Linked DNA regions of Homo sapiens: regions 2, 3 and 4 are each reported to be linked to region 1. Evidence: microRNA targets listed by miRTarBase, many of them from high-throughput screens and not tested one by one. Region 1 holds a microRNA gene; each other region holds the end of a gene's coding sequence.
What was found. The annotated mature microRNA hsa-miR-4701-5p reads UUGGCCACCACACCUACCCCUU and lies in region 1 at 2,040-2,061, opposite strand. An mRNA with a match to its seed (bases 2 to 7 or 8) in the 3' UTR can be bound and repressed. Matches are read on the target gene's strand: a 7mer-m8 pairs with bases 2 to 8, a 7mer-A1 pairs with bases 2 to 7 and ends in A, and an 8mer does both.

Region 2: the mRNA of ZNF76 is a reported target of hsa-miR-4701-5p. Seed matches in the 3' UTR shown: 7mer-m8 at 4,537-4,543.
Region 3: miRTarBase lists COQ7 as a target of hsa-miR-4701-5p. Seed matches in the 3' UTR shown: 7mer-A1 at 2,210-2,216.
Region 4: miRTarBase lists ZNF607 as a target of hsa-miR-4701-5p. The part of its 3' UTR that is shown has no 7-base or 8-base seed match.

Annotation. Positions count from the first base shown.
Region 1 is chr12:48,769,975-48,775,966 of GRCh38, forward strand. It overlaps MIR4701 (microRNA 4701), which reads right to left and starts at 2,063; the gene lies at 2,001-2,063. It overlaps ADCY6 (adenylate cyclase 6), which reads right to left. Exons shown (of 22, transcript NM_015270.5): 9 at 5,989-5,992; 10 at 5,699-5,724; 11 at 5,329-5,476; 12 at 4,983-5,080; 13 at 4,717-4,804; 14 at 4,428-4,544; 15 at 3,966-4,124; 16 at 3,495-3,673; 17 at 2,534-2,569; 18 at 2,321-2,450; 19 at 1,736-1,999; 20 at 792-996. It also overlaps a transcript of SPMIP11 not described here.
Region 2 is chr6:35,294,889-35,299,888 of GRCh38, reverse strand. ZNF76 (zinc finger protein 76) reads right to left here. Exons shown (of 14, transcript NM_003427.5): 14 at 3,904-4,745. The coding sequence ends at 4,641. DEF6 (DEF6 guanine nucleotide exchange factor) reads right to left here and starts at 2,071. Exons shown (of 11, transcript NM_022047.4): 1 at 1,937-2,071. The coding sequence starts at 2,032. RefSeq lists a silencer at 3,570-3,734.
Region 3 is chr16:19,076,662-19,082,653 of GRCh38, forward strand. It overlaps COQ7 (coenzyme Q7, hydroxylase), which reads left to right. Exons shown (of 6, transcript NM_016138.5): 5 at 645-713; 6 at 1,420-3,434. The coding sequence ends at 1,497. Among named protein-coding and RNA genes, the nearest start is that of COQ7-DT, 12 kb to the left of the region's middle.
Region 4 is chr19:37,693,361-37,699,352 of GRCh38, reverse strand. It overlaps ZNF607 (zinc finger protein 607), which reads left to right. Exons shown (of 5, transcript NM_032689.5): 5 at 1-2,982. The coding sequence ends at 1,313. It also overlaps the pseudogene SELENOKP1. Among named protein-coding and RNA genes, the nearest start is that of ZNF607, 23 kb to the left of the region's middle. RefSeq lists enhancers at 2,151-2,825, 3,502-4,177.

The DNA of each region.
Region 1 (5,992 bases):
ATGGTCTTGATCTCTTGACCTCGTGATCCGCCTGCCTCGGACTCCCAAAGTGCTGGGATTACAGGCGTGAGCCACTGCGCCCGGCCTAATTTTTTTTTTTTTTTTTTTTTCAGTAGAAAAGGGGTTTCACTATGTTGGTCAGGCTGGTCTTGAACTCCCGACCTCATGATCTGCCCACCTCGGCTTCCCAAAGTGCTGGGATTACAGGCATGATCCACCGCGCCCGGCATGGCTTCATCCTTTCAACACCTCTAAAAGGTAGGTATTATTATCCCCATTTTATAGATAAGGTAACTGAAGCTTAGAGAAGTTAGAAGACTTCTCAAATAAGCCAGTAAATGGAGCAGCCAGAATTCAAACCAAATAGTCCATCTCTAGTAGCCATGCTATTAACCACTCCCATCCACCAGTTCATTTGAGAGGAAATACCTCTTATTGGACTGGTCACAGATAAGGACAGAAGTATTCAAGTTTATATAAACCTGATTTTTAATCCCAGCTCTGCCACTTACTAGTTGTTTGACCTTGGGCAAGTTATTTAATCTCTCTGAGAGTCAGTCTCTATCCAATGAAAGGCGATAATAGTATCAGGATTAAAATATGCTCAAAAATTTATAGGACAGTGCCTAATGATCTCTGTTCTTAATATCAGACTTGATATAGGAGGTCAGAGGGAAGAAAACCCCACAGGAGCCCTGATGGGAAATCTGTGATCCCATCCCCAGCCTATAATCCCAGCTTCACCTGGAAAAAGTCCTGGGAAAACCCGCCAAGCAACAAAGCCCTCTTACCAATCTTCATCTGGAAATTGTTGAAGGAGTGCTCATTGATGTGCTTCATCTGCTCCATGAGCCGCATGGCGTAGTCAGCCAGGGCAGTGATGTGGGAGCGGCCCACCTGATCGTAGGTGCTGGCGTTCAGCCCTGAGGCAGCCATGTAGGTGCTACCAATCGTCTTGATCTTTTCCAGCTGCCGGAACCGCTCCTCGCTGATAATCTGAACAACACAAGGAGACCTGGCTGTCAAGGCAAAGACCCCAGACCCAGCCCTGCCCCAACACTCATTTCTTGCCACGCCTTGGCTGCCTTCCCCACTTCCCTGTCTCAAGAGCCCCCTTCCAGCTGCTGCTATCAGTGTAAGACTGAGGAGCTGGGAAAACAGGCAGCCTAGGACTCCAGGCAGGACTTGGGCATACAGCTTCAGAAGGTCCCTCCAGTAGCTCACTCACAGAACACAGACCCACAAGTGCAATATTAAGCAATTTCTCCAATCCTTACCTTTTGGGATACTGAGTCCCAGAGTGAGCAAGTGACTTCCCTCCAGAACAGTGAACAGCCCATTCCTGATCTGGATGTTCAGGACACTACCTCACATTTTGCTTCAATTTTCTCTATTCAGAGGACCATCTTGCTTGGTTGGTCTCATGAGGTTCTGTCCACAGACTATTGCCTTCTTCTTCAGTGACATCCACCTGGTACCTATCCTATCCCCCTACAGATCAAGTCCTCCCCTGCTCCCCAACAGTGATGACCCTGCCCCACTAGGGCTGACCCCCTTGCTGCCTCTGACACCTTCATGGGTTCTTGCCTCTGCCTCCACTGTGCATACCCTTACCCCTGATGACTCTGGGTCCCATCAAATCTCTCTCTCTCTTCCCAGTTCCACTCACCCATTCCAATCCCTGGTCTCCAAGTACCCCCCACTCTCTGCCACCACCAGCCAACTGGAAAAGTACCTCATCAAAGTCAGCGATGATCTCGTTGAGCAGCCGCAGGCACTCGACACCCTCATTGTTTGCCTCCAGCTCCACATAGAACTCAGAGAAGTTGGCAATGGAGGCAAACATAACAGCCACACACTCACACGACTGATAGTAGAGTTCATCATTGCGGCGCTCCCGGGCCAGGAAGTGGGCCGCCACGTCCTTGGGCAGAATGTTATGCAGCAGCCTCCGGTTGTATGCCTGTAGCTCCTCCATCTCCTCCTTCTCCCCTGTTGCCTGTGGACACCACACCCATCACCCATTGCCCGACATTCACAAGGGGTAGGTGTGGTGGCCAAGGCTTGGAAGTGCGGATAAGAGGGAATCACATAGAGAAAGAAAGGCCCAGACAGATGAGGCCTAAAGAACAGGCAAAGGGGTAAAGGGGGCAGGTAGAGGATGGGGCAGGGAGTAAGGGATGGGCACAGAGAAGGAATGGAACCAGGGTGGGCCTAGGTGTGGCCTGAGCCTTAGCCAGCTAGCACAAGATACATTTCTGGCCTGGCCCAGGCTCCGCCCCTAGGTTCCTCCTCTTCCCCCAAAGGCCCACACAGTCACCTGTAGTTTCCAGAGGAAGTCTAGGCGGGCAGTCGACTCCACCTGCTGAGCATGCAGATACAGCGCCAGCGCAAACACCAGCAGAATCACAGGGGTCATATATTTGAGGGCCACCCTCCCTGCAGCTGGACTAAGGATAAGCAGAGACATGCTTGGTGTCTGAAGGAGGCATCTAATGGCTCTACCCTTTGCTGCCTCGGAGCCCTCACTTACCAGTCCAGCCCATCAAAGGTCTCATTGGAAGAAGCCCTGGTAAGAAGATAGAAGAGACAAAGTCATCAGTGCTTCCTGGATTGCTGGGTGGGCACATGGAAGGGGAGACAAGAGACTGCATTTACTGAGCACATACTGTAAGTCAGGCATTGGGCCAGGGCTTTTACTTACATTAATTAACTCATTAAGAGTAGAGGTTAAGAAAACCTCTGCTCTTAGAGACTCCTCTACTTACCAGCTATGTGACCTGAGACAAGTCGCTTAACTCTCTAAGCCTCCTTCCTCATCAGTACAACAGGGATCAGATCTAAATAATGTATGTAAAAGGCTTAGCACAGTGCCTGCCATATAGTCAGCCTTCCATAAATGTTAGTTACTATAATCTTTACAACTACCCTGTGATTTAGGTGACATTGCCATTTTACAGATGAAGAAATTGAGGCTCAGAGAAGCTAACTCACCTGTCTAAAGTCACACAGCTAATGAGCAGCAGAGCAGGGATTCAAACCCAGCAGAGACCAGAGGCTTTTTCTACTACAACAAGCTATGGCCACATATCAAAGGAATGGGGTTTTGCAGAGGAAAAGCCAGTGTGGTGTCCCAGGCAAAGCCCCCAAGCAGGAATCAGAAGCTTTGGTTCCTAACCAGAGCCCTGCCACCAAGCAGCTGTATGTCCTATAGGTGGTTAAGATGGTGGATGTGAAAGCACCATGCAAATGTAAGAGGGAATTTTTTTTTTTAATGTCTAGCCTAAAGACACAAGGATTTCCCAGGACTAGGGTTTCCTTGGGGGTAACTATTTGGGGTCACATGCTGGGAGCTCCTCCATCTCCTCCCTTTCCCCCACAGGGGTGTTGTGGCATTCCAAGGCACAAGGGGCATGGGCACCAGAGAGGCTCACAGTGACCTAGAAAGGTGAGGGAAGCTCCTGGGGTATTAAAGGACCTGAGAATAAACTCACAAGCCATGGACGCCAAGCAGTAGGTCATAGTTGTCAAAGATGGTGGCTGGGGGACCCAGCAGAAGCAGCACCAAATAGATGAGCCCCAAGACAAAGATCATGGCCAACTTCCCGATGCTGCTGATGTGCAGGAAGACAGAGCTGGCCAAGAGACTCAGCAGCATGTTCCCGATGAAGTACTGCGGGGGTGGCAGAGGCAGCGTTGGGTGAAGGCAGAGGCCACAGCACCCTTGGGCAGGGAGAGCCCTGCACTCTCCTGCCTGACCTAACCTTCCCACCACACCCCTCAAACCCCCATATCCTCCACCTTCCATGCCCAGCCCCTACAACACACCAGGGCCCCTGGTTGCTCCTAGTGTGGGAGACTCTGGTGAGTTCCTGGGTCCCCAGCGCCCATCACCAGGCCTGGCACAGAAGGGCCAATGTCTGTGCCAGGACAGCCCCCCCACCGCCTGAGCACTGCTCGAACACCTCAGGAAAGCTGCAGGTGGGCATGGTGCCCTCACACAGGGGAGCATCCAGGCCCAGAGAGTAATTGAGCTGCTGCAGGTGGCAGGCAGTGATGTCAGCAGGTGTTAAATTCAGCATCCGGGCTGCACAGCTCCGTATGGGGGTGTGGTTACAGGTGAACTGCAAAAGTGGAGGGGTATATCAGGGTAACCAAGGAGGGAAAGGGTTGCAAGGTACCTGGTGAAGCCATGTACCCTAACCTGGGCTATGCCCAGGTACCTTATACCCCATGGGCCTTAGTACTCACTCAGGGATGACAAGAGGTTGGGAGAACAAGGAAGGAGAACCGGAGTTAACCTTCCCCTATTCTGGGAGGGGGCTCCCTGAGGGCAGAAAATATGTCCTTTTCTCCGCTGTACTCCCAGTGTCCAGGACAGTGCTTGGCACAGAGCAGAGGTGGGAGAATTCCCACTGGACCCTTACCATGTTGGCAATGGCAGAAGTAAACACAAGCAGGACGGAAAAGATGCCAACTGCGGTGCTATGTGCCCGTGAGCGGACAATGCTGCGGGACAGACGTTGCAGGGCCTTAGGGAACAGCTAGAGGCATCAAGAGACCAAGAGTTGAAGGTTGTATCAGCCAAGGAGGAATGGCAACCAGGGATGGGGCCCAGTGGAAGAGGCATGGCCTTCTCCCTCTCCCCATGTGACCTCCTCCCTGTCTGGAGTCCAGCCTGCCCTCCCCAACAGCCTCAGAAATCCCCTTACGTACAGAACCACAGGAGTACACAGCACAGATCAGCACGGTGATTAGCAGCAGCAGGAAGATGCTGGCATAGATCCCAAGCATCAGGGTGGAGCTGGGGCAGAACAGGGCCAGAAAAATCATTTAATTCTGGAAGATCTGGGCATTCTTGTCCCACCCTCTGGAACAAGCAGGGATGCAGGCTCCAGGGATTGTGGGCTTGTGTGGGTATTTAGGAAGCTTCTGGGAAGTGGTGAAGAGAGAAGCTAAGAGAGGAAAGGCAGGGCTCTCACTGTGGGAAGATGAGAAGCTGGATGAAGCAGATGAAGCAGAAGACCAACAGGGCACAGGCAACGTAGGCTCCGAAGCGGGGATCCACCTTCCGGGAGTACTGAGGGAGAGGAGGCTGAGCTGAGTGCTGGGCCCTCCCTAAGGAAGGCAGGGACAGCAAGGACAGGGCACTACCAGGGGTCTCAACAGGGAGGAGATGCAGTTGGCTCAACTGATGAAATCCTCACCCTGCTCTGTGGTCCCTTCTCCATCCCCCAGAAACACCTGTGCCCTCACCTGTGCTCAGCCTTCCCTGCTGCGACCTGCCCCTCCCCCAGCCCTTGTCCTTCTGCCCTGTATCCCTCAAACCTTCTTCTCAAGATCCTCTCTCTGGAAGGTGAGCAGAAACCGGCGCACATGGTCCTTCCGCAGCTGATCAATGCTGCGGGCATCGATGGCACGGCTCAGGAACTCATCCACCTCATCCTCAGGGTTCAGGGCATCTTGGGTGCCCCGGCTGAGGGCAGGAGACATGGTTTCACCAGTTGCATGGGCATGGCCATGTGAGAAACAATGAAAGGAAAGGTATGGACAGCACCTGAGGGAGGGAGGGAGAGCCAGGGGGGTGGCTCCTGCTCCCACACAACACTCCTAAGGTCAGGGAAAAGGAGGATCTCGGCTCCCCCCAGCCCCATCCCAGGGTGCAAGTGCCTTCTCCCTCCTCAGTAACCTGACTTACTTGTCTTTGCTGGAATCATCAATGCCCTGGAGAAAGGGACAGAGTGTGGAGTGAGGTGAAGGGCCAACAACCTTCATCTCTGCAGCTCCTTCCCCCACCCCAACACTGTGCTGAGGGTGTCCCCGTCATATCCTCTGGGGGCACTGGGACCCGAGATGAAATCTTCTCACTGCCCCAATACCAGAAAGCATACATGGAAATGGCAGTCACAAGAAAGGACAGGGTCAGGGACAGGGTATTGAGGGAGCTAAGAAAATGAGGCCCTAGGTCTGGTGCTGAGGGCCCCTCACCATC
Region 2 (5,000 bases), not on the chromosome of region 1:
GGAATCCCCGCCCCCCAACACTATCACTACTTCCTCCTCTTCCAATATTCACTATTATGGGCTTGAAAGGAGCCCCGCCATTTCCGCCCCACCCCCACTTGGCCCCTGAGACTCCCACTGTTAGCCCAGGTTTCCAGAGTTGACAAGTTTTCTGTCAAGTAGGAGGGAACTCTATAATTGATCCTGTGTGACCAGAGATGTTGCTGGCAGTAGGTTCAATATGAGCTGTGATGAGGTACAGACAGTGGACAGTTCAAGCATGCAAGCTCTCCATGGAGTATTTCCCTAGAAATACGCAACCTGTGGGGATGAGGGAGTGGGTAGTGGCCCTTTTAGAGGGCAAGACAGAGGCTCAAGCTAGGAGGCTTTACTGGCTGATGGCACCAGGAAAAGGGGAGCCACTTAAAGGCTGTACTTTCCATGTGAAGGGCAGAGAGAGCCTGGAGAGGTCTCAGTGGCCACAGGTAATACAGAAGTGGAAAATGTTACCCTGGAAGCAAAAAGCCACGGGGGCTGGTATTGTCTGGCAAGATATTAAAGGGACAGGGTGGGAGGTAGGGGTGGGACACAGAGTTTGCAGAAATGGATTTTGGATGATCGACTTTTTTCCATTTATACTGAGGACCCAACCAAATGACATGATCTGCAATACAAGAGATTTAAATAGGATGTAAGGAAGAATCTGCCTGTTAGGAGGTTCTCCCTAGGTGACAAAAGATAGTAGTGGGCTCTCCTTCCTGGGGGAGTGAAATCATCTATTAGATGCTCACAAATCCAGGTAAGGAATTTAACATAGGACCAGTTTGGGATATTCAAGTTCCTCACATCCAAGTTCAGTAAAGTAGGGGGTTGGAACGGTGGTGGGGCACAATAACTGTTCTGTCCCATTCATCTCTCAGGTATCCAGCACCCTCTACCTCGGTCATTAAGAATGGAGGTTTCCTTGAGACCACACGTCTCCTTTGGAGGATGGGGCAGGGAGACACCAGTTTAGTGCCTAGCCACATGCCAGGCACAGAGCCTCACGAGGGGCACTCAAGTACTTGCAGAGTGAACGAAGGCACCCCTATGGCAGGTCCTAGAGAGCTGAGGCCTACCTTGCTCCTTTCCCCCAGTGTTCGCTGATTCTAGTGGCTGAGGGCCTTGCTTCCTCCCCACTAACTAGGGTAGGGAAGGCAGCACTACTGGAGGACTAGAGGAAGAGAGAGAAAAACTCCTTGGCCTCCCAGAAATTGTCTAGGCCAGATGATTGACTTCAGGACAATCATTGATTGGGATTTTCCTGGGCTTAGATTCTCCCCCTTCCCTACCTGAGGTCTCAAGGCCTAAGGTAAGTTTCCCAACCTGATATGTGTGGTGGATAGGGGGGTGAGCTGCGTAGCAGTATAATAGGGTCCTCAGTCCTCACCCACTCCGCAGCTCTGTCCCACCTGGCGGGCAGGGTTAGACAGGCCAGACAGGTTTGGGACTGGGGGCGGCCCCTTTATGCCTCTCTCAGCTCCAGAGGAAATGACTGCCAAGCACTGGCTAACTGTTTCTCTTGAAAGTCAGGAGGAAGCAGCAAGAAAGAGCACACTGCGTGCCCAAGCATGACTCTGTGGAGGTGTGTGTGCTCATCACACAGAGTCTGGGATGTGGCCTGGCTCCTGGCCCTCAGAACCCCATAATGGCCCTCAGAACCTCCTGGCCTCCAGTTGTGGGGCCCAGTTCTGCGCAAGGTTTCTGCACACACTTCACTAGGTCTCTGGAGGGTGGGCAGCGGCATCTACCAGGCTACGTTGGCCCAGTTACCCAGGACCAGCCCCCCGACCCCAGGCCCGGGACGCTGGATGGCTGGGTGCCCCTGGAGTGGCACAGTGTCCACACCTGGCTCCCAGGCGGCAGGGGCTGGTGTGGTGCATCTGCCGTCCTCCCCCGGGTCCCGGGTGCCCCTCACCTTGAGCTGGGACTTGGAGACTTTGCCACTCTTCTCCACGTCCAGCGCGGTAAAGGCGTACCAGATGGACTTGAGCAGTTCCTTGCGCAGGGCCATGGCTGAGGCGCCCGCCCGGCTGGGGGCGGCTCTGACACTAAGATCCGGTTTCAGGAAATGCAAACGGCTGCAGAGACCGCAGAGGTGCCGTGGTGGAGCGAGAGCACCACCTGCCTGCACATTGCGTGAGGCTCTGTGCTGTCGAGAACCCTGCCTGTTGTTCTGGCAGTGCTCAGAGGCTCCACTCCCTGCATGGGAACTGGGGACCAACTCTCCGAGAGCGGGAACCCTCGTTCTGTATCCACGTGGCTCCCGGGGCATGTGAGGCCCTTTTAGAAGCCTCCTCAGACCCGGAGGCTTCTGGAGCCTTCCAGGGCTCCCAGACGCAGCTTGCTGAGGGAAAAAGCAAGCTCATCCTGATATTGGGGTCAGACAGAGTAAAGGTCCAGTCCTAGTTCAACATAGGAGGCCTTGGGTAAGTTACTTAACCTCCTTGAGCAGTTTCCTCATTTGTAAAGCAGGAAAAATGCCTCCGTGTTGTAAGAATGTCTGAGAATGGACGTAAAGCACATAGTAGGCTCTGGGTAGAGCTTTTGGTGCTACTTAACATTACCATGGTGGTGGGACTCCATCCAAGTGGAAGGAAACAAAGGCAACATCACAAAGCTGGAGAAGGAAATGGGCCAGGGCACCTCTCCAGGTCAGGATGTGGCACTTGACTTGCTGGCTCCCTATCCCCTCAGCACTGGCTCTAAACGGTACTCAGAGCACTGCCCACTCTAGCCCCAGTAGCCCTGAAGACACTGGAAACTTCCTGAAACACATGGGGGTGAGCCTTGTGGTGCACCTCAACTTTAAGGGTCCCAGCAGCAGCAGGCTTGGGATTCAGGGCCCTCCATGTCAGTGCTTCCTTTCTTCAGATCCAGTGTCCAAAAGGACTGGGACACGCCCACACCAGGAATGGTGGTCACAGATGTTGAAGACATCTGCTCAGGCCAATTCTAAGACACCTCCCCCTACCCCCTAAGCCAAATAAAAATCCCTCCAAGTAAGGTGCTGGGAATACCTCCTGCCTGGAAGCACGCCCCCGCCCCTCTCTTCCCAAGGAGCTGGTGGCAAGAGTAAATGGGAGCTTTCTAGGCATCCTGGGAGAGGATGCCTGGATCAGAGGAGGGGGTTCCAATCCTAGGAGGCAGGAAGGGGTTGGGGCATATCCATCACAGCAGAGAGAGGAAAAGAGGCACCACCAATCCCTGCAATGTTCCTGTGTAGGCAGAGTCAAACCCAGAGCTTCTTCCCATCAAGTGCCTTCCCCTGTATCCCTTCTTCCCCCTGGAGCTGATCTGGTCTCACCAACTCACTTTTCAGTGGGGTCTGATTGTGGCTTTGAAATCCCACAGCACAGTCCTAGGCACCTAGGTGGGCACCCCCAGAGCTGGGTAATAGAGCCAAGACTTCAGCTCCAGAGGCATCAGACTCTGCTCCTTGAATCTCAGTAACCTTGGCAAAGGTGTCCCCCAGCCTCACTCTAACCTGGGGCTTTGCCCTCTTGGAGAAGCTGACTGTGTGATTTGGGGGTGGCTGGGTTGGAGGGGCTCTGACTACGTTTCACAAGAAAAGGCAGGAAAAGAGTTCCCCCAGCTCAATCACATGAGGCCTGAGATTCAGCCAGAGCCTGGAAGCAGCGGTCACCCTGGTCCTGTTTGGCTACCCTGGAGCCCACCTGCTCAGCTGTGGGCAAGAAGCCACCAGCAGCTCCTCAGGGCTTTATCTTATACTGGGCTTCCTTCCCACCTGTGTCCCTGGCAGGCCAGCCCCACCACTCTGGCACCAAGGCTGAGTGGGGTTTGTGCCAGGGAGACAGGGCTGATAGCCTGATTTGACCAACCCTGCCACCCGGGCCTAGAGCTGAAAGGATGGAGGGACCCAGGTGGAAATTTGGAACTTTTATTAAATACTCATTCATCCATGTGCCACCACCACCCAGAGCAGGAAAAAAATTATCAAAATGGAATTAAAAAAAACAAAACAAATCAAACCCAATCCCCAGCAGTCTATGTACAGGGCCACTCCCTGCCTCTCTGCCATAGAGAGGTTGGGGGGCAGCTGAGGAGTGGTGGGGGCTGGGCACCTTTTCTTCAGCCACAGGCCCCTGAGGAATTAATTGACTGTGGTGTCAGGAAGTCCCTGGTGCCAAGTAGCCAGGCATCTCAGCTGGCCTCCAGGGAGGTGGTTATTGCTGGGAGGGCAGGACAGGGCCTGCTCCACTGCTACTGGGCTGAAGAGCTGTCTGTGGCTCAACCCTACAGGGCCAGTCCCCATAGCAGCCCCAATCTCTACCTGAGAAGGGGAACAGACTGAGGGCCAGAAGGGTGTTCTTTAGGAGGAGAGTGGGCGCCCAGCTGATTTTGAGAGGCGGGTGCCCTGGTGTAGCCTGGCTGTTGTCAGCTCCCGAGGATGATGCACTCCCCTGATTCCAGCTGCCTGGCCCCCTTCTTGAGCAGGGCCCCCATTCCCTTCAGTTAGGCAGTTTTCTTGCTGTCTTCTCACCCCAGAGACCTATGTGGCCACCTTCTATGTGTCAGCCACAGCCTGGGCCCTTGGGGGCAAGAGTGGCCATGCAGATGGCACTTCCTCCAGCATGGTGTGGGACCCAGCCCTCTTGGACTCAGCAGCCACTCTCCGACACTGTTGTCTCCAGGGTCACAGCCCCTTGCTGCATGGCCGCAGTGGCCACATTGATGGCCTCCTCTAAGGTCTGCTGTTCCTCCAGCTGTGGGGAAGGGGGTGCAGAAGGAAGGAGACAGTGAGACCCTCCCTGCTAGATTCCAGTGTTAGTAATATGTGGCCTACTTTTTTTTTTGACTCTCCCCCATCTACCCAGTGCCACACGCTGAGCACTTAGTAGGGCTCCAATAAACATGAAGTTCACGGATGAAGAGTCCTATTAGGCTAGGCATGGCCAGGGGGCCCTGGAATAGCCAGGGTCAGAGAGACCCACTTGCTCACGGAGGAAGGACTGGCTGAA
Region 3 (5,992 bases), not on the chromosome of region 1:
CTGCATTGCAGCCTCCGCCTCCCGGGTTCCAGCGATTCTCCTGCCTCGGCGTCCCAGGTAGCTGGGATTACAGACATGCACCACCACGCCCAGCTAATTTTTGTATTTTTAGTAGAGACGGGGTTTCACCATGTTGGCCAGGCTGGTCTGGAACTCCTGACCTCAGGTGATCCTCCTGCCTTGGCCTCCTAAAGTGCTGGGATTGCAGGCGTGAGCCACCGCGCCCGGCCCACTTCTTTATCATTGGTAGATTCTGAGCAGATGCTGTGAGCAGGAACCCTTTAGATTGAATAAATGAATAGATATCCTGAGATAATTTTCCACAGCAAATAAGGGAACTGTTTAGTTTTTTAGAGTCTAAATCTGAGGTTGGCAAACTATGGCCTGTGGCCAGCCACCTGTTTCTTTAAATAAACTTTTATTGGAACACAAGCACGTCCATTTGTTTGCATGTCTCCGGCTGCTTTTCTGGTTACAGTGGCAGAGTTGGGTAGTTGCAACAAAGTATTTACTCTCTGGCCCTTTAGAGGAAAAGCTGGCCTCCCTGTCTTAGGCCATAATAAGAGGCTTTAGCCTCCAAAATGAAATGGAACAGCAGGAGAGTTGGAAGGCTAACTTGCTTTGGTGTCTTTTTATTTAACCAGCTGATAAAGAAATTTCGGGATGAAGAGCTTGAGCACCATGACATAGGCCTCGACCATGATGCAGAATTGGTAGGGCCCTACTGTTACCTGTTCTGCTTTGGGACTCCTTATTTGGGAGGCTGAAGGGGCAGGAGGTTTCTGTTGCCAGAAAAATACATTTTAAAGTGACAGCGAAAGGGAGAGAAAACCAATGACGTTGCTTTGACAAAAAGCAAGCAAACGCATTATTGCTCCAGATTGGGAATCTCCTTTCTTGCTTTATGCCTTCTCCTTTTCCCCAGAAGCTTTTTTTTTTTTTTCCCAGACACAGTCTCACTCTGTCTCCCATGCTGGAGTGCAGTGGTGCAGTCTTAGCTCACTGCAGCCTCCTCCTTCCAGGTTCAAGCAATTCTGCCTCAGCCTCCCAAGTAGCTGGGATGACAGGTGCATGCCACCATGCCTGGCTAATTTTTGTATTTTTTATTTTTAGTGGAGACCGAGTTTTCACTGTGTTGGCCAGGCTGGTCTCGAACTCCTGACCTCAGGTGAGCTGCCTGCCTTGGTCTCCCAGGAGCTTCATTTCCTTTCCTGTGAGAATCTGGATGACTCCAATGCTTTGGCAGTAGTAGCAGAGGCATTCCGACCTTTTGAATAGCTTTCTTTGAAACTAAAATAAATTGTTCCTTAGATCTATTTCTTATCCAGAGAAATCCAAAGCCTGCCCTGCCAGCCCTGAATCTTACAACCGAAAATGAGCACATAACATGTTTCTTTGTTTGCTTATTGTTTTTAACAGGCTCCAGCCTATGCCGTCCTGAAGAGCATTATCCAGGCCGGATGCAGAGTGGCGATATATTTATCAGAAAGATTATAAAGTGTGTCCAGTTTTGCCTGTCTATAAAAGATGATAGTAATTTACCAAGTGACATTTGCAGAGAAACAGGTGTACAGTTATCGTTGTACTTTTGTACAATGTGAATTTTGTTAATAAATTATAAGGTTTGTTTTTTTTTTTTTAAACTCTGCAGTGTTGATTTTTCTCTGGGTTGTTTTTTCTGCCATGAGACCAACAGGTCACCAGCCTTGTTCAAGTTACAGCAAACGAAGCTGGGCCTTGTTTGGTCTCATACTTAATTTTCTTTTATATACATGTTTTTCTTTTACATGCATATATATATATTTTATTTTATTTTATGTTTTTTGGAGACAGGGCCTCGCTCTTTTGTCCAGGCCGGGTCACAACTCACTGCAGCCTGGACCTCCTAGCCTCAAGCAATCCACCCACCTCAGCCTTCCAAGTAGCTGGGACTACAGGTGTGCACCACCACAGCTGGCTAATTCTATTTTTTTATAGAGGCGAAGTCTCACTATGTCGCCAGGCTGGTCTCTAACTCCTGGGCTCAGTGATCCTCCCGTTTCGACTTCCCAAAGTGCTGGGATTACAGGTGTGAGCCACTTCACCAGGCCCATTTTCTCCTAAAACTTCAAGGACAAATCATTAATAATGTAACAGGAATCTTTAGGAGAAAAAACAATTTGGTTTACTGATAACAAAAGATAATTGGAAACATGAGAGTATTTGAGATTGGCCAAGCAGAACTATGAAGTCCATCAAGTAAGTCAAAGATCATCGTTTCTGTTTTGAATTGTGGGTGATAATGGGTGGGAGAGTGCTACAGTCTGTATGTCTGTGTCTCCCTAGAATTCATACGATGAAATCTTCACTCTCAAGTTGATAGAAGGTGGGGCCCTTGGGAAGTGTGAGGTCATGAGAGTGGAGCCCTCATGAATGGGATCAGTGCCTTATGAAAGGCCCTAGAGAGATACCTCATCCTCTCCACAGTGTGAGACTTCAAGGGGAAGTATGAGACTTCTCTGAGGAAGCAGACCCTTCACAAGCAAAATCAGCCAGCACTTTGATCACGGACTTCCCAGCCTCTAGGACTGTGAGCAATAAATGTTTGATGTTTATAAGCCACCCAGACTGTGGTATTTTGTTATAGCAGCCTGAACAGACTAAGACGGGGGTGTTGCTTCCATCAAAGGATGTACTAAGTTGTGGATTATTTGTGAAATTGAATTACAACCTTTTCCTTAAGGTCTTTTACCACCTCCCCCCCAAAAAAATCCCCCAAAACTGATTCAGATTTTCATACTTTAATGAAATATTTTATAATTTGCAAATTTTTAAGTAATTTATGAAAAACCTAGATCAGTGGATCTCCTCTCTGGCTGCCCATTAGAATGTCCTGTGGAGATTAAACTTTTTTTTTTCAGTTTATGGACCAAGAGTTTTGATTTATTTAGGGTGGAGTTCAGGATCAGAATGGTTTCAGAAGCTCCCAGGTGATTCCGGAGTGAGTTGGAGCTGCAAGCCCCTGAGCTAGATTATAAGATGCTTCTGGGAAAGAACCACATTTTAGGAATTTGCTTCCCACCCAGTGCCCTGCATTTAATCAGCACCTGATGACTTGGCAGGACTTGCCCCACCAGGGTCTGGCTTTGAAGGGTAGTGGACACCAGGATCCTTTGGATTAATCCTCTGCCACCTCTCTCTTTTCCTCAACCGAGAGTGAATTTATGTAATTGAGTGAAAGTCTACGAATCATAATTGTAATAAATTAAGGCTGGGCATTTGTTTGAAATTAGATAGGATAAAGCCAAAGGTTTGAACAAGTTGTGGATGGTTTGTAAAAATTAATCTTACAAAATAAATGCTGTGTGTGAACACGTTGATTAAATTCAAAAGGGTATTATTTGGTTTTTCTGTAAATTGAACCTTGAAATAAAAGCACAACAAGGTTTTCTTAAGGTACTGATCTGCTCTTTAACAAGAATTTGTAAAGGGTTATAAAAGGTTTACAAGAATCTCACCTCATGGTCAAACTAGTTAAGATTGGATAGATTTATCTATAAGGTATTATTAAAAATTGGGGATGACATTAATAGTAGACTGATGCAAGGATGACATTTGACTCTGTCTTGAACAAGATTTTTATGTAATAGTAAAGGATAATGAAAGATTTTTGTTTGCCTTGCAAATAAACTACCAAAAAAAGAAGGGAAAGGCAAGAGACAAATTGTTTGGAAAGTTGTCTTCCCTTTTAATGGGTAAAGGTTTTGTGCTTTTTAAAAAAGTTTTTGAGTCATCATTTTGGCTAATGATAACCTGGAATTCTATTTTATAATATCAAGTGTTTTAAACCTTTAATATGTTCAGTAGGCTTCCCCAAATCGAACTTTAGCTTCAAGATTGTCTTTTTTGACCCCTAACTTTTGGATGCCATAGAGGGCCCCTGGATTATTTGACATGTTTAATTACATGGGATTGCCAAAATAAGAATAATGTTTAATCTTATTCAGGTTACATTTTAGTGAATAACATTAATATATATATTAATATATGTTCCAAAATTGTATAAGATTTCTAAAATTCTAATATCTGAGTATATGATATCAATTATAATTAGGGTTATTATGTTAAGTTATTGTAAACCACAGAAATAACGAAATTTCTTTGTCAATTGTGTTTTTGACTGTGACTGTCTAAAGACATCTTGTGATTCACAGACAATCGTAGTCTTGTTTTGATCCTCTTCAAAAGGTGGTTTATAATCAGCTGTAGAACTTAGGTGCTCTTAAATGCATATTTCCAATATCTTTAGATTGTGATATTAGAATAAAGGAAAAACATTCAGGACTCATGAAGAGCTGAAATATTCATGAATATCAAGCAGAGCAAGAGTTAACTGAATGGGCTGAACTAATAGAAGACATGTAATCTGTTTAACTTTTTGCTTAAAACTTTGCTGATGTTTTGTTTTTCAGAGTCAAGAAAACTTTTATTTTGAGCTATTTACAGCTTTTAACAATTGAGTAAGGTATACTCCTGTGAACAAAATTTGGAGTGTATTTGTTCCTCTGCTGGTTTCTCTAGAATTCAGAAACTATTTGTGAGTATTCTTATGGCAATGTAGTTATTTGCATAAGTGCAACAAGAATCCATTTTCTTTTGCAACAGGACACAATTGGAGAAACTGGTGGTTTTACCAGTTTCTGATAGAAGGGTGTGCTTCCCTTTAAGGAATCAAGCTTGACTTGCAGAGCCAAAAAAAAGGAGAAACTGGCCTCATACCTTGTCTACACAGTCCTTGTACAGGGCTCCTAACCTGTGATGAGTAAAGAATGTCACTTTCTAACAGGTCCAGGAGCCCCAAGTTATCTTGGGACCTCAAGAAGAGAGGAATTTACCCAACTCATAGGTATTGGAGGGTACAAACCCATTGCTGGGCTTGACTTTAAAAAGTCTTTTCTGATATTCCTTATGGAACAGAATTCCATCAGAGCCAATTTTAAAAGCATATGTGAAAAATAATTATTCTTGCTGTACTTTATGCAAATAATCAGGCCAAGTATAAGACTAAAGTTTATTTTGCAAACAATCCTATTATGATTTGTTTTTAACAAAAATGAAGACTGGAGAGTTTCAAAACTTATCACACTTGTCATTAAATTCTAGTTTTATTAGTTGTTTTTAAGTTTTTGTCTGTATTTTAGACTAACCCTACTTATTCTGTGAACCAACCAGTGATCTCTGGCTGAAGCTCAGAAGAAACAAGGGATGGTTAATATAGAAATCTGGATCTGGATCAATATTCTAGAGGAGGCGGAGGTTGCCGTGAGTTGAGATCATGCCATTTTACTCCAGCCTGGGCAACAAGAGTGAAACTCCATCCCAAAAAAAAAGAAAAAAAGAAAACATGTTCAAACCAATCCTTGTACATGAATGCTCATAATAACTAAAAGTGGAAACAACTCATGTCCATCAACTGATGAACAAAATGGCAATATACCCAAACAAGGCAATCTTACTCAGCTATAAAAAGGAATAAAGTAGTGATACATGATACAACATGGATGAACCTTAAAAATATTATGCTTGGGTCCAGAGTTTCAGTATGGGAAGATGAAAATAGTTCTGGAAATGTATGACGTTGATTATTGAACAACAATGTGAATGTACTTAATGTCAATGGAATGTATTCTTAAAAATGGTTAAAATGGGGCCAGGCACAGTGGCTCATGCCTGTCATCTCAGCACTTTGGGAGGCCAAGGTGGAAGGATCGCTTGAGTCCAGGAGTTTGAGGTTGCAGTGAGCTATGAGAGCACCAGAACAGTCTAGCCTGGGTGACTTTGAGAAGAAAAAAAAAAAAGTTTAGGCCAGTTGCAGTGGCTCACGCCTGTAATCCCAGCACTTTGGGAGGCTGAGGCAGGTGCATCACGAGGTCAGGAGTTCAAGACCAGCCTGGCCAAGATGGTGAAACCCCGTCTCTACTAAAACTACAAAAATTAGCCGGGCGTAGTCCCA
Region 4 (5,992 bases), not on the chromosome of region 1:
AGTCCTTTAGGCTCAAAGCAGGCCTTAAAGTACATCAGAGTATTCATACTGGAGAGAAGCCACATGAATGTAAGGAATGTGGAAAGGCCTTTCGTCAGTTTTCCCACCTTGTGGGTCATAAAAGAATTCATACTGGAGAAAAACCCTATGAATGCAAGGAATGCGGGAAGGGCTTTACATGTAGGTATCAACTTACCATGCATCAGAGAATTTATTCAGGGGAGAAACACTATGAATGTAAAGAAAATGGGGAGGCTTTTAGTAGTGGCCATCAACTTACTGCACCTCATACATTTGAAAGTGTTGAGAAACCTTATAAGTGTGAGGAATGTGGGAAAGCCTTTAGTGTGCATGGACGACTTACTCGACATCAGGGTATTCATAGTGGTAAGAAACCCTATGAATGTAACAAATGTGGGAAGTCCTTTAGGCTCAATTCATCCCTTAAAATACATCAAAATATTCATACCGGTGAGAAACCCTACAAATGTAAGGAATGTGGGAAGGCCTTCAGTCAGCGTGCACACCTTGCCCATCATAACAGAATTCATACTGGTTACAAACCCTTTGAATGTAAAGAATGTGGGAAGTCCTTTCGTTGTGCCTCATATCTTGTTATACATGAGAGAATTCATACAGGAGAGAAACCCTATGTATGTCAAGAGTGTGGGAAGGGTTTTAGTTATAGCCATAAACTCACTATACATCGCAGAGTTCATACTGGTGAGAAACCTTATGAATGTAAGGAATGTGGGAAGGCCTTTAGTGTATCTGGACAACTTACTCAGCATCTGAGTATTCACAGTGGTAAGAAACCCTTTGAATGCAACAAATGCGGGAAGTCTTTTAGGTTCATTTCTGTACTTAAAGCCCATCAGAATATTCATAGCGCTGAGAAACCCTACGAATGTAAGGAATGTGGCAAGGCCTTTCGTCATGCCACAAGCCTCATATATCATGACCGAACTCATGCTGGTGAAAAGTCCTATGAATGTAAAGAATGTGGGGAAACTTTTAGTCATGCTTCACATCTTATTATTCATGAGAGAATTCATACCAGTGATAAACCCTATGAATGTAAAAGATGTGGGAAGGCATTTCACTGTGCCTCATATCTTGTTAGACATGAAAGCGTTCATGCTGATGGAAATCCCTATATGTGTGAAGAGTGTGGGAAAGCTTTTAATAGTAGCCATGAACTTAGTATACATCATAGAGTTCATACTGGTGAGAAACCCTTTAAATGTAACAAATGCAGAAGGTCCTTTAGGCTTAGATCCATCCTTGAAGTACATCAGAGAATTCATATTTGATAGAGAAATTGTGGCATATACAGGTAGTAAAGAAAGCACATTGTGTCAATGGATTTATCCCACTGAACAATTTGAATGAAGACAATGTGGAATGGCTTTGAGATACAGTTCAGTTTTTATTAGGCATCAATTTGTATTGGTGTGAACTTTTCAAAATGTAAATCATATATGCAGTTTCTTTGGTATGACCTGTGTTAACTCAGATTCAGAGAATTTATAATGTATTTTTTTAATAACATAAGAAAACTTTTCTGATATTCCTCTAGTTTTGGATTGCCAAAATATTCACAGTAGAGGAAAACTGAGAAAACGTAGGAAACCATTCTTTATACTTGCATGTAAACATCTTCCAGCAACAATCATTTATTGTTAAACCTGGAAAAAGCCATTACACAGGAAACCTCTGTTGATATAAGCGATGATGGGAAAGGCTATTTAGCCACTCTGCATATTTAATGCTCATGATCAACATCTGCTTCCTATAGCTGGGATGATATGGGGGAAGATATTTATCCCTTCTGGGGATCATATATAAATGATGATAGTAGTACCTACAGTATAGTGCTGTTAGAATTACATGAGTTAGATGTGGAGGTCAGAGTGGAAGCAGGTGTGAGAGGGTCCCGCAGAAGAAAACATGGCTGCCAAAGTGTTTGAGTCCATCGGCAAGTTTGGCCTGGCCTTAGCTGTTGCAGGAGGCATGGTGAACTCTGCCTTATGTAATGTGGATGCTGGGCACAGAGCTGCCATCTTTGACCAATTCCGTGGAGTACAGAACATTGTGGTAGGGGAAGGGACTCACTTTCTCATCCCATGTGTACAAAAACCAATTATCTTTGACTGCTGTTCTCAACCACGTAGTGCGCCAGTCATCACTGGTAGCAAAGATTTACAGAATGTCAACATCACACTGTGCATCCTCTTCCGGCCCATCACTAGCCAGCTTCCTCGCATCTTCACCAGCATTGGAGAGGACTACGATGAGTGTGTGCTGCCGTTCATTACCACGGAGATCCTCAAGTCACTGGTGGCTCGCTTTGATGCTGGAGAACTAATCACCCAGAGGGAGCTGGTCTCCAGCCAGGTGAGCAACAACCTTATGGAGTGAGCAGCCACCTTTGGGCTCATTCTGGACGACGTGTCTTTGACACATCTGACCTTCTTGAAGGAGTTAACAGACAGGTGGCCCCCCAGGAAGCAGAGAGCGCCAGATTTGTGGTGGAAAAGGCGGCCATCATCTCTGCTGAGGGTGACTCCAAGGCAGCTGAGCTGATCGCCAACTCACTGGCCACTGCAGGGGACGGCCAGAGCGAGCTGTGCAAGCTGGAAGCTGCAGAAGACATTGCATACCAGCTCTCATGCTCTCGGAACATCACCTGCCTGCCGGCAGGGCAGTCCGTGCTCCTCCAGCTGCCCTAGTGAGGCCCCAGCCTACCTGCACCTCCGTGAGGCAACTGGGCCACAGCCCCGATGATTCGTAACACCACCTTTCGCCCTCACCCCAGAAATCACTGAAATTTCATGATTGGCTTAAAGTGAAGGAAGTAAAGGTAAAATCACTTCAGATCTCTAAAAAACAAAGAATTACATGAGTTAGTACATGAAAAAATTATGGGAAACTACATGAAATATACTGTTACGTTCAATAAACATTAGCTTCTGTATATAATAATATCATTACTTGTGTTATTTTTAGTGCATTTTGACGAAATGAAAACCATTAACCATTCAAGTTTAATGAATTCAAAAAAGTTTTATGCTTTTTAAATTTGAATTCATTCTGGGTAAACAGATAATAAGTAAAAACCATAAGAGGGCTTTCATTCCGATCTGTTTAGGTGAATCAGACACTTAATCCTGGAATGAAATTCAGATGTAAGCTGGGCAGTGTGGCTCACGCCTGTAATCCCAACACTTTGGGAGGCCAAAGTGGGTGGATCACTGGAGGTCAGGAGTTCAAGACCAGACTGGCCAACATGGTGAAACCCCGTCTCTACTAAAAATGCAAAAATTAACTGGGCGTGGTGGCAGGCGCCTGTAATCCCAGCTACTCGGGAGGCTGAGGCAGGAGAATTGTTTGAACCCGGGAGGTGGCAATTGCGGTGCGCGGAGATCACACCACTGCACTCCAGCCTGGGTGACAGAGCAAGACTCCATCTCAAAAAAAAAAAAACCTGCCTGAGAAAGCTCAATGCTGTTCTGAAAACATACTGTTCCAGCCAAAACCTGTAAATAGTGATAGGTCCTTAAGCCCCCTCTTAAAGCAGTTACTTTAGAAAGCTTGCAATTATAAACCATTTCTCTGCCCCTTTGAGATGCAAATCTACCACCAAGAGCTGTCTCCTCAGCTGAGTTTGAAATGCAAACATTCAGAGAGCCAGCTCTTGCTCCAGCCTCTCAGTTGCTGTGGGAGTGTAAGGGCCTAACTTTGGTGGCTGTCTTGCTCCAACTTTCACAACTACCTCAGTCGTAAAGATACAAGAAGTTTGTTTCTACTCTGGATAAATACCAATTAGTTAAAAAAAAAAAAAAAAAAAAACCTGATGCCTTAGTCATATGGACCAAACTCCCCCGTAACACCTTTCAGTGTCTTCTTTAGTACACCCCAACATTTTCAACAACTCCTGATTTTTGTTTCCCAAAGTGGAGCTCAGTTCACACTGGATTCTGTTCCCTAATGCAGTAGTTATTACTGAATAAAATCTGTCTTTACTGCCTTTTACTATTGTCTCACTTTGTTTCTTTTTCTTTTCTTTTTTTTTTTTTGTTTTTGTTTTTTTGAGATGCAGTCTGGCTCTGTGGCCCAGGCTGGAGTACAGTGGCCATGATCTCGGCTCACTGCAACCTCTGCCTCCTGGGTTCAAGTGATGCTCCTGCCTCAGCCTCCCAAGTAGCTGGGATTACAGGCATGTGCCACCACACCCCGCTAATTTTTATATTTTTAGTAGAGATGGGCTTTCACTATGTTGGCCAGGCTTGAACTCATAACCTCAGGCAATCCACCCACCTCGGCCTCCCAAAGTGCTGTGATTACAGGCGTACGCCACCACGCTTGGACTCTTTTCTTTTCTTTGAGACGGAGTCTCGCTCTTGTCACCCAGGGTGGAGTGCAATGGTGCAATCTCGGCTCATTGCAACCTCCGCCTCCCAGGTTCAAGCCATTCTCCTGCCTTAGCCTCCTGAGTAGCTGGGATTACAGGTGCACACCACCACGCCTGGCTAATTTTTGTATTTTTAGTAGACACGGGGTTTCACCATGTTGGCTAGTCTGGTCTTGAACTGCTGACCTCAGGCGATCTGCCCACCTTGGCCTCCCAAAGTGCTGGGATTACAGGTGTTAGCCACTGCATCTGGCCTTTTTGTTTCTTAAGACAGGGTCTAGGTCTGTGGCCTAGGCTGCAGTGTAGTCATGCCATCCATAGCTCTTGGGCTCAAGTGATCCTCTGGCCTCAGCCTCCAGAGTAGCTGGGATTATGGGTGTAGACCACCAGGCCCAGCTAATTAAAAAAAAAAAAATTTGTAGGCATGGGGTCTCACTATTTTGCCCAGGCTGCTCTTAAACTTTTGGCCTCAAGCAATCCAGCTGCCTTAACCTCCCAAAGCACTGGATTACAGGCATGAGCCACTGCGCCCAGCCCCACTGTATTTCTCTTTGACAAAACCTAAACATTCTGTTTATTTGAACACCACTTATATTTATGTTAATGTTCTGAGTAAATGTAAATGAATACTGACAAAATAATAGTATAACATCAGAGAGATTTTTGTTTGTTTGTTGAGACGGAGTCTCGCTCTGTCACCAGGCTGGAACGCAGTGGCACAATCTCAGCTCACCACAACCTCTGACTCCCTGGTTCAAGCAATTCTCCTGCCTCAGCCTCCTGTGTAGCTGGTATTCTACTGGTATTAGCTGGGTGTGGAGGCACGCGCCACCACACCCAGCTAATTTTTGTATTTTAGTTTCACCATGTTGGCCAGGATTGTCTTGATCTCCTGACCTTGTGATCGGCCCACCTCGGCCTCCCAAAGTACTGAGATTACAGACGTGAGCCACCACGCCCAGCCTAGAGAGGTTTTTTTAAACAAAACGAATATGTAACTGATATCTTGTATTTTAAATTTAAGAGGGCATATGAAATTGAATGCATTCTGTGAGAGGAGAGTCAGAGTATTGATAAATTTGGACTTATTAAAATTCCTGGAGTAATGACTTAAAGAACCTACAAACTATTAAAGAGAAAATTGGAATAGTAATACATCAATCCAACATAAAGAAAGGAGAGAAAAAGGAAACATGCAACAAAAAGAAAACAAATTAAAATGCCAGGAGCTAATGCCTGTAATCCCAGCACTTTGGGAGGCAGAGGCGGGAGGATCGTTTGAACCCAGGAGTTCAAGGCCAGCCTGGGCAACATAGGGAGACCCTGTTTTTAAAAAGTAATAAATAAGGCTCCGAAGCAGGGAATGGGGGCAAGATGGTTTACATCTCAAACGCACAAGTGTTGGACAACTGGAGTCAGTCTCCATGGAGATTATCTTTGATAACAGATTTCTTCTGGGGAATAGCTGAGTTTGTGGTTTTGTTTTTCAAAACTCTGCTTCGGCAAGATTTGAAAAAAAGAAGAAGCTATGGAAACTCATCTGATTTCAGATACGATGACGATGGAAGAGGGCCACCG